Regions from separate parts of the Homo sapiens genome. Here region 2 is linked to region 1. Evidence: fine-mapped QTL for protein levels in blood plasma. Region 1 holds a variant in brackets. A gene starts in the other region. All regions are shown on their reverse strands.

Region 1 (5,379 bases):
CTGGCCTAATGAAATGCTGCCTCCTGCATCAACATCAAGCAGCATTTTGGACACAAGTTGATTCCGGACCACTGAGAAGCACTTGTGCAGCAACTCAATCCTATTAACTATGGCTTTGCAAAATTATGTTGATTCAAGAGATAATTCACAATTCTCAAATATCTGTAAAACTAACTGGTTTTCAGTTTACTTTAAAACTGCACATGGTGGCACCCATCCTGTTCTGGCAGAGGAGGATGGGGCATACCAGGTCACAGCCCCATCTGGTGTCCAGATTCATCCCTGCTGTGGACAGAGACATCAGGCTGTCACAGACTGACGCCAGTGGACACTTCCATCACCCCACCAGGACCCCTTGCTCAGATTAAAGACTCCGGAAGCATCCTTCTGATTATGATTCCCATGAGATGTGCCTATGGGGAGAGATGGATCTGATCCTATATTTCTTATTTGCCTACTGAAGAATAGGAGGGACTGCAATTCCTTAATTTGAGTGATTTTTCAAATACTTGAGCCAATGTAATTGCTCTCAGGAGCTGGGAGGATAAAACATAAGAAAAGAAACACAAAATTTGCCCCAGACTGATGGTTAATATGCAGAAGTCATTTAAGTGGAATGAAACATTTAATTTCAGAATATATTGAAAATGTGAGGATCATTTTAAAAAGCAGGAGAATAAGTCTTATGCCAAATGTTTTTCTTCTACTTTCAGAATCTCAGGATTTTTTGTAGCTTTATTAAATGGTATATGCCTGGGCTTTGCTGCTTAATTATTCCATTTTCTCTGGAACTCTCACTCTGAACCATTCTAGGATCTAATGGCGCACTGGAATTTTAAGCATGTGAAGTGGATAATCGAGAAACTTAGTTCTGTTTCCTTCCTCCAATATTTCAGAGAGGAATTACAGACATATCTGGCACAGAGATAGGTTAGATAAGATGGTCATAGAGTCACTTGAAGGGAAACAAACTTGCCAAACAGGTGGAGAAAACAAACCGCTTGAGAGTGCAGAAACGGCATCTGCAGCTTTGGTTAGGACATCCTGCAGCAGACAGGACGAAGAGCAGAAGGGAAAATCCCCAAATTATGCACAAGCACAGAAACCCATGATTAGTGTCCTTGACCATGATTAGTGTCCATGACCTGTGCTCATTATAATAGTAAAAAACACACTCCTGGGTAGAGAATTAAGATGCTAATAAGAAGACATGCCATATATGTGATAGCATTGCACATGCACGCCCAGGAGACCACCTGCAACATGCTTAAGCCAACAGCCAGGCTCATTCCCACCCTCTTATGAATAATCACATAAGCTTTCCATAAATGAGATTTCCTAATGTCAGAGGGGACTGTCTTATTCTCAAGGAACCCAGTTTGACCTGGCTTGCAGAGTGTCCTTTCGCTTTGCAATAAATGTCTTTGCCTGCTTTTACTTTGGACTCACTCTCAAATTCTTTCATGTGGGTCAAGAACATGAAGCAGCCCACTGACAGCAGCACCATCTACAACACAGAGCCCTTCACACTTTGGGCAGAATGCAGGATTTCTCCACCTTTGTATCTTGGCCTGAGACAATAAATGGGGCTCATACCTGGGAGCAAAGAAAAAAAGAGAAGTGGCAGGAGGCTTTTGGGTTGGAAGAGGACAGGACCCTCTTAAATCTGGAAGGGGCAAAACCAATAATAACTTTCCTTATTCCATTGATGGTATTGGCTCTCAGTTCTAAAAACAGAAGATGCTATCTGTGGTCTAGAACTGGACATCTTTGAAAATTTCCAGTCTCTATCCACAAGCCCCTCTGCCCCCTCCCTACTACTAATATCAATAAGAAGAAGGAGGGCTTGCCAGACCTCCGTCAAATGCTCAAAATTCCAGGAGGTGTGTTTCTTGGCATGCTGGTTCCTAGAATTCAATTCCTGTTGGCAGTGGTTTCTCAGCAGTGCCTGGGGGACAAAGGCTTAGTGAAAAGTCTGGGCTTGTTTAATACCTTGCTGGCTCTGAGGAGCTAGTGCCAGAGCTGTATAATCACATCCCCATGGTGCTGTGAGAAAAGAGGCTTTGCTTTGGTCTCAGTGACACAGGTCAGCACTCTTGTCCACTCCATCCTCAGACTCAGCTCCATCAACTACAGATGTACCTATAGAGTCTATTTTAAAATCTGGAGTTTAATGAACAAAATGCTAGAAGAGAAATGTAAAGTTTTAAGCAGACATAAAGAGAAGTTGCCATTGAGGTAAATTTCATCTCCTTGGGCAACAC[A/G]TGTTACTGAGAGACTAAACTAATTCAGCTGAGTGTATACGGGGGCGACGGGGTTGAGATGATGAGTTTGTTTATAAACCTTTATGGTCACATGCCCTTAGACTCAGCTCCTGGGGAAATCATACTTCTAACCATTGTACAATGAGGGTATGTGCAGCCCAAACAGGGCTTGTGTATGCAAGCACCACCTATATGCTAATAAGCTTATTAAATTTTACTTCCTCTACTGTTCTATCAAACACCTGAGCAGAAACCCCACACCACTGCAATCATTTGCACATTCTTCTCCCACTACAGGCTTTTTGAGGGTTGGAACCCATGTCTCTTCTTTGTCTCCTAAGCACCAATGTATAATACTTATGGAGAAAATGAACAAAATCTGAAGTAGGAGTTGGTGGAAGGAGGCAGTGAAAGACCATAGAAAGTTTTTTTCTTTCTGTAATTAGAAAATCATGGCCAGGTGCAGTGGCTCACGCCTATAATCCTAGCACTTTGGGAGGATTACTTGACCTCTGGAGTTTGAGACGAGCCGGGGCAAGATGGTGAGACCTTGTCTTTATAAAAAAAAAAATTCTTTTAAGTTAGCTGGGCATGAGGGCACACTCCTACAGTCCCAACTACTTGGGAGGCTGAGGTGGGAGGATCCTTTGCACTCGGGAGTTTAAGGCAGCAGTGAGCTATGATCACATCACTGCACTCTAGCCTGGGTGACCAAGTGAGACCCTGTCTTATGAAAGAGAGAAAAAAACAGAAAAAGGAAAAAAAAAAAAGAATTATCAGCATTGGCGAACTGTTTGTTATTTGGAGAATATTTTAAATAGTGAAAGAAATCAGAGAACTTTCAAAAGATAACTGGAATGATGAAAATGTCCCATTTTGATATGTGTGATGGTTAATTCCTTGTGTCAACTTGCCCAGATTTCAGTGCCCAGATGTTTGGTCAAACGTTGGTCTAGATGTTGCTATAAAGATGTTTTTTAGATCTAAGGATATTTCAATCAGCAGACTTTGAGTAAAGCCAATTACCTTTTGTGGTGTGGGTGGGCCTCATCCAAACAATTGAAGGCCTTAAGAGAAACAACTGAAGTCTCCTGAGGAAGACGGAATTCTGCCTCCTATCTTCCTTCCCACTTCAGCTGCAACATCAACTCTTCTCTGGGTCTCCAGCCTGCCAGGCTGCCCTACAAATTTTAGATTTACCAGCTTCCCTTTCCCCCTTCCCTTCCTTCTCTCTCTCCCCCATCTCCCTCCTCCTCTCGAGCCCCCTTTCTCTCCATCCTACTGGTTCTGTTTAGCTGGAGAACTCTAATACAATATGTAACAGTTACCTTTTGAGAACGTAATTGGGGATGGACAATGAATATGTTGCGTGTCAGTGCTGCTCTTGAGCCCTTGAAGTATGAAGACTAAGAACAAGTCCTAAAAGGAAACGTGGGAGGCACCTGGACATTTAATCTCCCTGATGGAGTACACATGAAAATCCTTCTAATGTAATCACTCTGGATCTCATTTTCAGCCACTGACCTTCTTTAAGGGGGAAGATCAAAAATGCACCACCCTTAGTCTACTGACTGATTAGCTGGTAAGGCAAAAGTGGCATTGAATCAGAGAGACATGTCCAAACAAGTAGCAAATCTTTTTTTCCCCTGACAGCCTAGATTCAGTCAATAATTAAATTTGTATTGAATGCTGACTATATTTAGAGTACTGAATTAGCTGTTGTTGAGACTGAAAAAGAAGTAAAAGACATTGAATCCCCAACGAACCTGCAAACTAAAGGAGTCAGTTTAGGATAGATCCACACATAGGTGGCAAATCAATTACAATGTTTCATAAAATCACTGTTGTTAGGGAACGTCAGGTGCTATTTAAATGAATTCTTCTTGTAATCTAAACTCTTCTGTCCAATACTTAAATTTTATTCTAATGTAAACAATATTGGGGATTTTCATGAAGTATGTGTATTCCCTATTATTAAGGAAATCCAAAAAAGTTGCTCTATCAGTTAGGCATCTTTATAACTCCAAGATTGACTTAGTAGAAACATTTAAGAAATAGGGAGTTTTAGATGAATAAGACCTAGACTTTTCCCCTAATGGTTAATATCCTAAATTGTTTAAAGTTTATGTTTCTTACCATAAATCTTAATAGAAGTTTATAGTTTATTAATTGTTACTGAGTCCAAGGCTTTTATTTTACAAATATCAGAACTTAGTTCCTGAAGTTAAAATGATTTGCTCATAGTGATTTTCAGCTAGTCACTTTAGTGAGTTAATCTAACTAGTCACACAGCTAATTATAAAGGAAAGTAACTACCCCAAAACAGTTCTAATTTCAATAAATAGGTTGCTATTGTTTTAACTGCCAAAGTTATTGGTCAGGGTGGCTGGGAATGGGGTAACTGACCAGGTAGGATCCTTCACAAAGAGCCCACTCCCAAGGGCTGGTCAGTTCTGGTTCAGCCTCAGGGTGCTGACCATTCTGTGGTTTGTTAAATCCTCAGAGTCTAATAGTGAAGAAACAATAACTTCCAGCCTTTTTGGTTCCAGTTCATTCCTGGGATACAGGTATCCAGAAAGGTAGATCAGCTATGAGTCAAACCTATGGGTTTGGTTGACTCCAGCCAGCCAAATTACCGAAACAGAAACTCAACTTCTTTTCATATAGGAAATATTTCAGAAATATGCATCAGATAGCAGTAGCTACTCGCAATACTGCGTTTACTTTTGGACTGTTTAACAGGGTGTCCTTTAAAGCAGAGTTGAGATTCAAGAGTTGTTCACGCAGTCTCTTGAATGTGTAACCTAGACCTTGGATATGACCTAGAACCAAGTGGCTTAGAATTTTAAATCTACACTTCATCAAAATCCTAGCTTTCTTTTCCACAATCTTAAGATCCAGATAAGCCCTCTTCAGTCCTGTGTTCTCAAGTTGCAAACCGTAACTGTAGAGGTATCCAAGATAAGATTCACTAGGATTTATACCCATTTCCATGCATAATGCTGTAAGAATTGTTTTGCAATTATCATTGACTGTTACTTGTAAAACACCATTTCTTCTTTATGTTAATACTGAATCTCATCTGTCATTTTCACAATGCAATTTCTTCTAATTC
Region 2 (5,379 bases), not on the chromosome of region 1:
ACCCATATCCATGAGGTCCGTCAAGACATTGCACAGAGCAGCCTCTCACCCATATCCATGAGGTCTGCCTCTTTAATCTATGCACCCAATTCTTTCCCAGGCTCTATAATTTGGGGTAACATTTCTCTGGGCCCTGTTATAGAATAATGAAAATTTTCTATAAAACAAATGTCCTTACTTTCACCTCATCCCTATTTATGTAAATGCTTGCCTCTTTAATTACTGAGGCCAGGAGGAAGATTTGGGAGAGGAAAGGGCTATGCGGTGACATTTGGAAAGACCCTGCTCTGTGACAGTTCTAGTGTTGACGCCAAAGTTCTCATTTCCTCTTAGAAAAGTCTTGTGCAAATAGCATAATTTGCTCCTGTTGACTTTTTTAATGTGCTCATGGAGACTGCTCGGGATCTAGATCTGTTTGGGATCTGCAGGACTTCTCCTTCTGCAGTGTACACACACGTGCACACACGTATGTGCACATACCCAGGGCACTGGTGCCATCAAAACTTTCTCTTGTTCTTCAGCCTTCCCCATTCCAGGTAAGGCCACCACCACCTTCAAGGCTCCCAGGCCCAGACCCTCAGGCAGGTAGCAATTGCCAAGGCTTTAATGTCCCACCCCATTAATTTTATCTTCCTTTATCTCCTGAAAAGATTAATGTTCTAAACCCTGGCACCCAAAACACCCTCATGTTGAAAACTCTTCAATACCCCCTTCTCACACTCATCTTCAGAGCTACCATGAGGCAGAGAAGCCTCCGGAATCAGCCCACATGGGGCTGGGTGAATGCCAACACCAAGCAAGGGGAAAGTCACAAATTGACATCCAGCACCTTATTCTCCACCCTTCAGCCCCTCAACTGACTCCTGCTCCACGGCCCGTTCTATTAATATCTAGCATTTAGCACCAGCCTGGACAAAAACCTACTTGGAAAGATGGTACAAGAACCCCACACAACTCCATAGAACTTCGCTGTCTAAAAAAATGCTTTGCCGTATATTATCCCACTTAATCTCCACCACTATGCTGTACATAGGAGCCACAACTCCTAGACAACAAATAAAAATCCTATCACTTTTCAAATCCTAACATTTTCATATGACAAAGCCAGAACTCAAAATCCAGACCTCTAGAGTCCCAGATCAGGAAAGGAAGAAACGCCAAGTCAAAGAGAAGCTTCTTTAGAATAATCTGCTTTTCTGGATTATTCACACCATGGGTCAGCTCCCCACTTGAAGTCAGAACCAAGCTCCAATTTCAGTGAACCACCATCATGCTTTGACCAGGAGATTCTCTCAGAAATGTGGGGTCCCATTGAGTAGGCCTGAAGACAGAGATTGACAGGCCTATGTGAGCCTGGAGGAGTTCTTTTTAGGGGCTGGATAATGTCAAGAACAGAGAACAACTCCAGAGAAGGCACACACGCCTTCAAACCCATCCCCTCATGGGGAGAAAGCAGCCAGGAACTCAGGCCTCAAGTGTTCTAGGTGTGGTCTCCCAAGGAAACGGGCTCACTTAGTTTGGGGAAACCTTCAAACCCTGCACTGAGTCCTATGTAGACTGGGACAGAAGGTGGACAATGTAATCCCCTGAGCCCTCAACCTCCTCCTGGAGAGATGACAAGATTAAGATTTCTCTACCAGAACCCTCAACAGACACATCCCAGAATCTCCCCAAGTGAAATGTGCTCTACCTACCGTCCCTGAGAGCCCAGGGGTGTGAACCCAGAGGGCAGGTGTGGTGGGGAAGGGAGGAGGGAGAAAGAAAAGGGATGGCTGGGAGTTAGAGAAAGGCTCCTATCCAGGACCTGCCTGCAAGGATCCCAGGTATCAGCCAGCCCAACCTAGCCCTTGTTGACTTAGCAGGTGACAGTTTGGGGAAGAAGGGGAGGAGGATGCGGAAGTCACACCTCTCCAGGCTTGGTTCCCATTGGCCCTTGATATCCTTAAAAGGGCCCAGCAATTTCAGCATCCTTATTCCCCAGACCTTCTGCAGATTCTGTGGTTATACTCACTCCTCATCCCAAAGAATGAAATTTACCACTCTCCTCTTCTTGGCAGCTGTAGCAGGGGCCCTGGTCTATGCTGGTGAGTATGGCCTTTCCTCTGCGCCCCACAAGAGTCCTCCCAGTCCAAGGAGCCCCTCACTCCTGCCTTCACCCCTCTCCTCCTCTCTCAGTGCTATTCTGGTTTCCCTGCCTCTGCAAGTGACTCCTCTCCCAGTTCTCCACACGTGGCCTCTGCACCCCACTGGCCAGAGGAACCCAGAACTCTCTGGCCTCTGCCTGCCCTCCCAGCTCATCTCCTCACACACCATTGTTTACCCACTATGCCTCAGCTACACTGGCTTCTCTGGTGTCCCCTGCATGTAGTTGAGCAGGGTGTCCCCTACACGAGGGTGCCCAGGCAAGGAGTGGTAGAAGCTAAAATCTGGCCGACACTCTACTTGCCAAGCAGTGAGCCTGGCCCCTGGCTGTGTCTCTTAGGAGGAAGGGATGCCTTTTTTTTTTTTTTTTTTTTGAGACCGAGTCTCCCTCTGTTGCCCAGGCTGGAGTGCAGTGGCACGATCTCTGCTCACTGCAACATCCACCTCCTGGGTTCCAGCGATTATCTTGCCTCAGCCTCCTGGGTAGCTGGGACTACAGGCTCATGCCACCTTGCCCAGCTAATTTTGTATTTTTAGTAGAGACGGTGTTTCACCATGTTGGCCAGGTTGGTCTCGAACTCCTGACCTCAGGTGATCCGACTGCCTTGGCCTCCCAAAGTGTTGGAATTACAGGCGTGAGCCACCGTGCCCTGCTGGGATGCCTTTTTTGATCCACAGAAGCACTATTTGGGCCATGATGATCCTGCTGTTCCTTGAACATCAGGATCTTCCTTCTTGTCCTTTCCTCGTCTAGAATGCTTTCCCTCTCCCTGGCCCCTTCCCCCAACCAACTCTAATGTCACCTGGCCAATGATTTTTCATCTAGAAAATCTCAGTTTACATATAATTCCCCAAAAAGGCCTTCCATGCACATGCGGAACAAATCAGATCCATGTGCCCTTCTCGCACCAGGCTGCACGTTCCCTTCCAGCACTGTCACACCAGCCATTAAATAATTTCGTAAAAGGACAGATGTAAGCTCTGTCAGGGCAGGGGTCTTGTCTGCCCTCTTCAGCACTGCACCTCCATCTCTTGGCACAGAGCTTTGCATAAATGTTGTGTTGAAAGAATAAAGGGAATCAAGGCTGGGGTCTCAATCCTGCAAATCGCTCAAATATGGCCCCATAACCCCCACATACTGTCCTCCTCCACCACAGAGGAGGTTGAGCCCCTCTGACCATGGCCAGCTCCATGACAGACACCTCAGGGAAGCCTACCAAGCCAGGGGCCAGTCAGGAGGAAGGCACTGTTCCAAGAGACATTACACTTCTCAGAGGGGAAGTTATTTCAAAAGCCACAGGAGTTAAACATCAGAGAGTGCCCCAGTAGACCCGCTGATATGGTGGAAGGGCATGTCCAACCCAAAGGGAAATTGATCCCCTTCTATCCATGAGCATTCCCAGGAGATAAGCTTTGGGAATGGGAGGGGAGGGTGGCTCGAGTAGGTCCGGTTCGGTCCTTGCTCTCATCTGGCATGTTTCCCCCATTGCAGAAGATGCCTCCTCTGACTCGACGGGTGCTGATCCTGCCCAGGAAGCTGGGACCTGTGAGTCCTCCTCTCCCTGCTGCCCTAGCCCTCGTTGGGAAGGTTTAACAGTTAGGGATGTGAGTGGTGGCTGGGAGAAGAAGCCAGTGGGAGGAGATCTGGATTCTGTGCTTGGTGGTAATGGGGAGGGGCAGGTAATATAATAAAGAAGGTGGCATGGGTTGAAATGGTACAAGGCTAAGGACAAAAGAGGATGACCCAGAGAGGCAAGGACAATAGGGAGCATGGGGAAAAGGTTATTGTGAATAAAAGGGAGAGAAACATGAGGTTAAGTGGTAAGGGCAATGTCTCACATGGCATTAATACCTTCACCTGCAAACACCTCCCATTACTCCCAATTCCTTAGCAAGATAACCATTATCTGGCCTCTAACCTCATTTTCCAACCCCATTTTCCATGACTCTCTTTTATGTCGCACCCACATCAGCTAAATTGAACTTGTTTCCATTCCCCACACATGCCTTCGCCTGACCTCTTACTCACTGCCTGCCCCCAGGGAAGCCCCTTTGGTACATCCTCTCCTGCTAACATCCTGCCTTCAAGATCCAGCTTCTCTATGAAGTGCTCCCCGATTCTCACCATCCCCTAGTCCAAATCCTTCCCCAACCCTGCCCGCTGCATTCCAAGAGACACACAGCATGCAGAAATGCTATCTCCCTTAAGGGGGCAGCGTTTAAGCCATATCACTTCTGTATCCTGGCACCCAGCACACATTAGGTATCCTGGGGCCCTGCAACCCATTCCAAAAGAAACAAACACTTTCACTTTGCTAAAATCCATCAATTTGTGCATTCACAGCTAAGCCTAATGAAGAGATCTCAGGTCCAGCAGAACCAGCTTCACCCCCAGAGACAACCACAACAGCCCAGGAGACTTCGGCGGCAGCAGTTCAGGGGACAGCCAAGGTCACCTCAAGCAGGCAGGAACTAAACCCCCTGAGTAAGTCTCTGTCTCTATGCCAGATCAACAACCTAGAAAAGTCTCTGGCTGCAGGCCCACATCACACCTCCACGCACAGAGATAAGCCTGGTGAGAAGCAGGTAGACTCAAACAGCTGAACACAAAGGCACAAATGGGATTGTGCATTGCACCCACACACAACGTTTTCACAATAGTAGATGTTGCAGCCTGCACAATACATGGTTTCTGTCCTGGCTCACACAACTTCCTATGAGAGAAGTGCTGGAGCCCTCAGCAAAACTTCTGCACTTTAGGACTTTCTGTAGGGATGATGTCCTGGGTGGAGTGGGGGTGGGGGGCGGGTGCAGGTGGGGCAATGCAGAGTTCTCTTTAAATGAGGTGATTTTTCTGCTGATGTGATTGTTCTGCTCCAAAATTAGAATCCATAGTGGAGAAAAGTATCTTACTAACAGAACAAGCCCTTGCAAAAGCAGGAAAAGGAATGCACGGAGGCGTGCCAGGTGGAAAACAATTCATCGAAAGTGAGTGCATCCCAAGGCAAGGCTTTGTGGGAATGAGAATACTCACCACCCACCATCCGGGGGTGGGATATGGGACAGAACTTGCCCCCATTTCCACCTCACATATGAGACTTGGAATTGCCACAGCCCCTGCTGTTGAAGACCCCTCACTTTGTGCTTTCATATGTTTCCAATTTCTCATCCAGATTCAAATTGCCAGCTGGGCACGGTGGTTCACGCCTGTAATCCCAGCACTTTGGGAGGCCAAGG

Which allele goes with the higher level. Alleles are on the strand shown, and positions count from the first base shown. The strength of an association depends on the size of the effect and on how common the allele is.
As copies of G replace A in region 1, the plasma level of the protein whose gene starts at base 1,973 in region 2 goes down (moderate association).

Evidence for each region. A credible set is the group of variants that fine-mapping cannot tell apart. PIP is the chance, under the fine-mapping model, that this variant and not a neighbour inherited with it causes the effect. Protein levels are from antibody-based Olink assays in UK Biobank. Linkage for the fine-mapping came from a reference panel and not from the study's own genotypes, which makes the PIPs less certain.
Region 2: it holds the start of LACRT, and the variant in region 1 is the best candidate, but not a certain one, in a credible set for the plasma level of the LACRT protein (UK Biobank, PIP 0.53).

Annotation. Positions count from the first base shown.
Region 1 is chr7:7,326,108-7,331,486 of GRCh38, reverse strand. The region is part of intron 1 of LOC107986764 (a long non-coding RNA gene); the gene reads right to left. Among named protein-coding and RNA genes, the nearest start is that of LINC03016, 74 kb to the right of the region's middle. The variant A/G (reference allele first, on the strand shown) is at 2,265.
Region 2 is chr12:54,631,489-54,636,867 of GRCh38, reverse strand. LACRT (lacritin) reads left to right here and starts at 1,973. Exons shown (of 5, transcript NM_033277.2): 1 at 1,973-2,084; 2 at 3,635-3,688; 3 at 4,487-4,627; 4 at 5,029-5,130. The coding sequence starts at 2,027.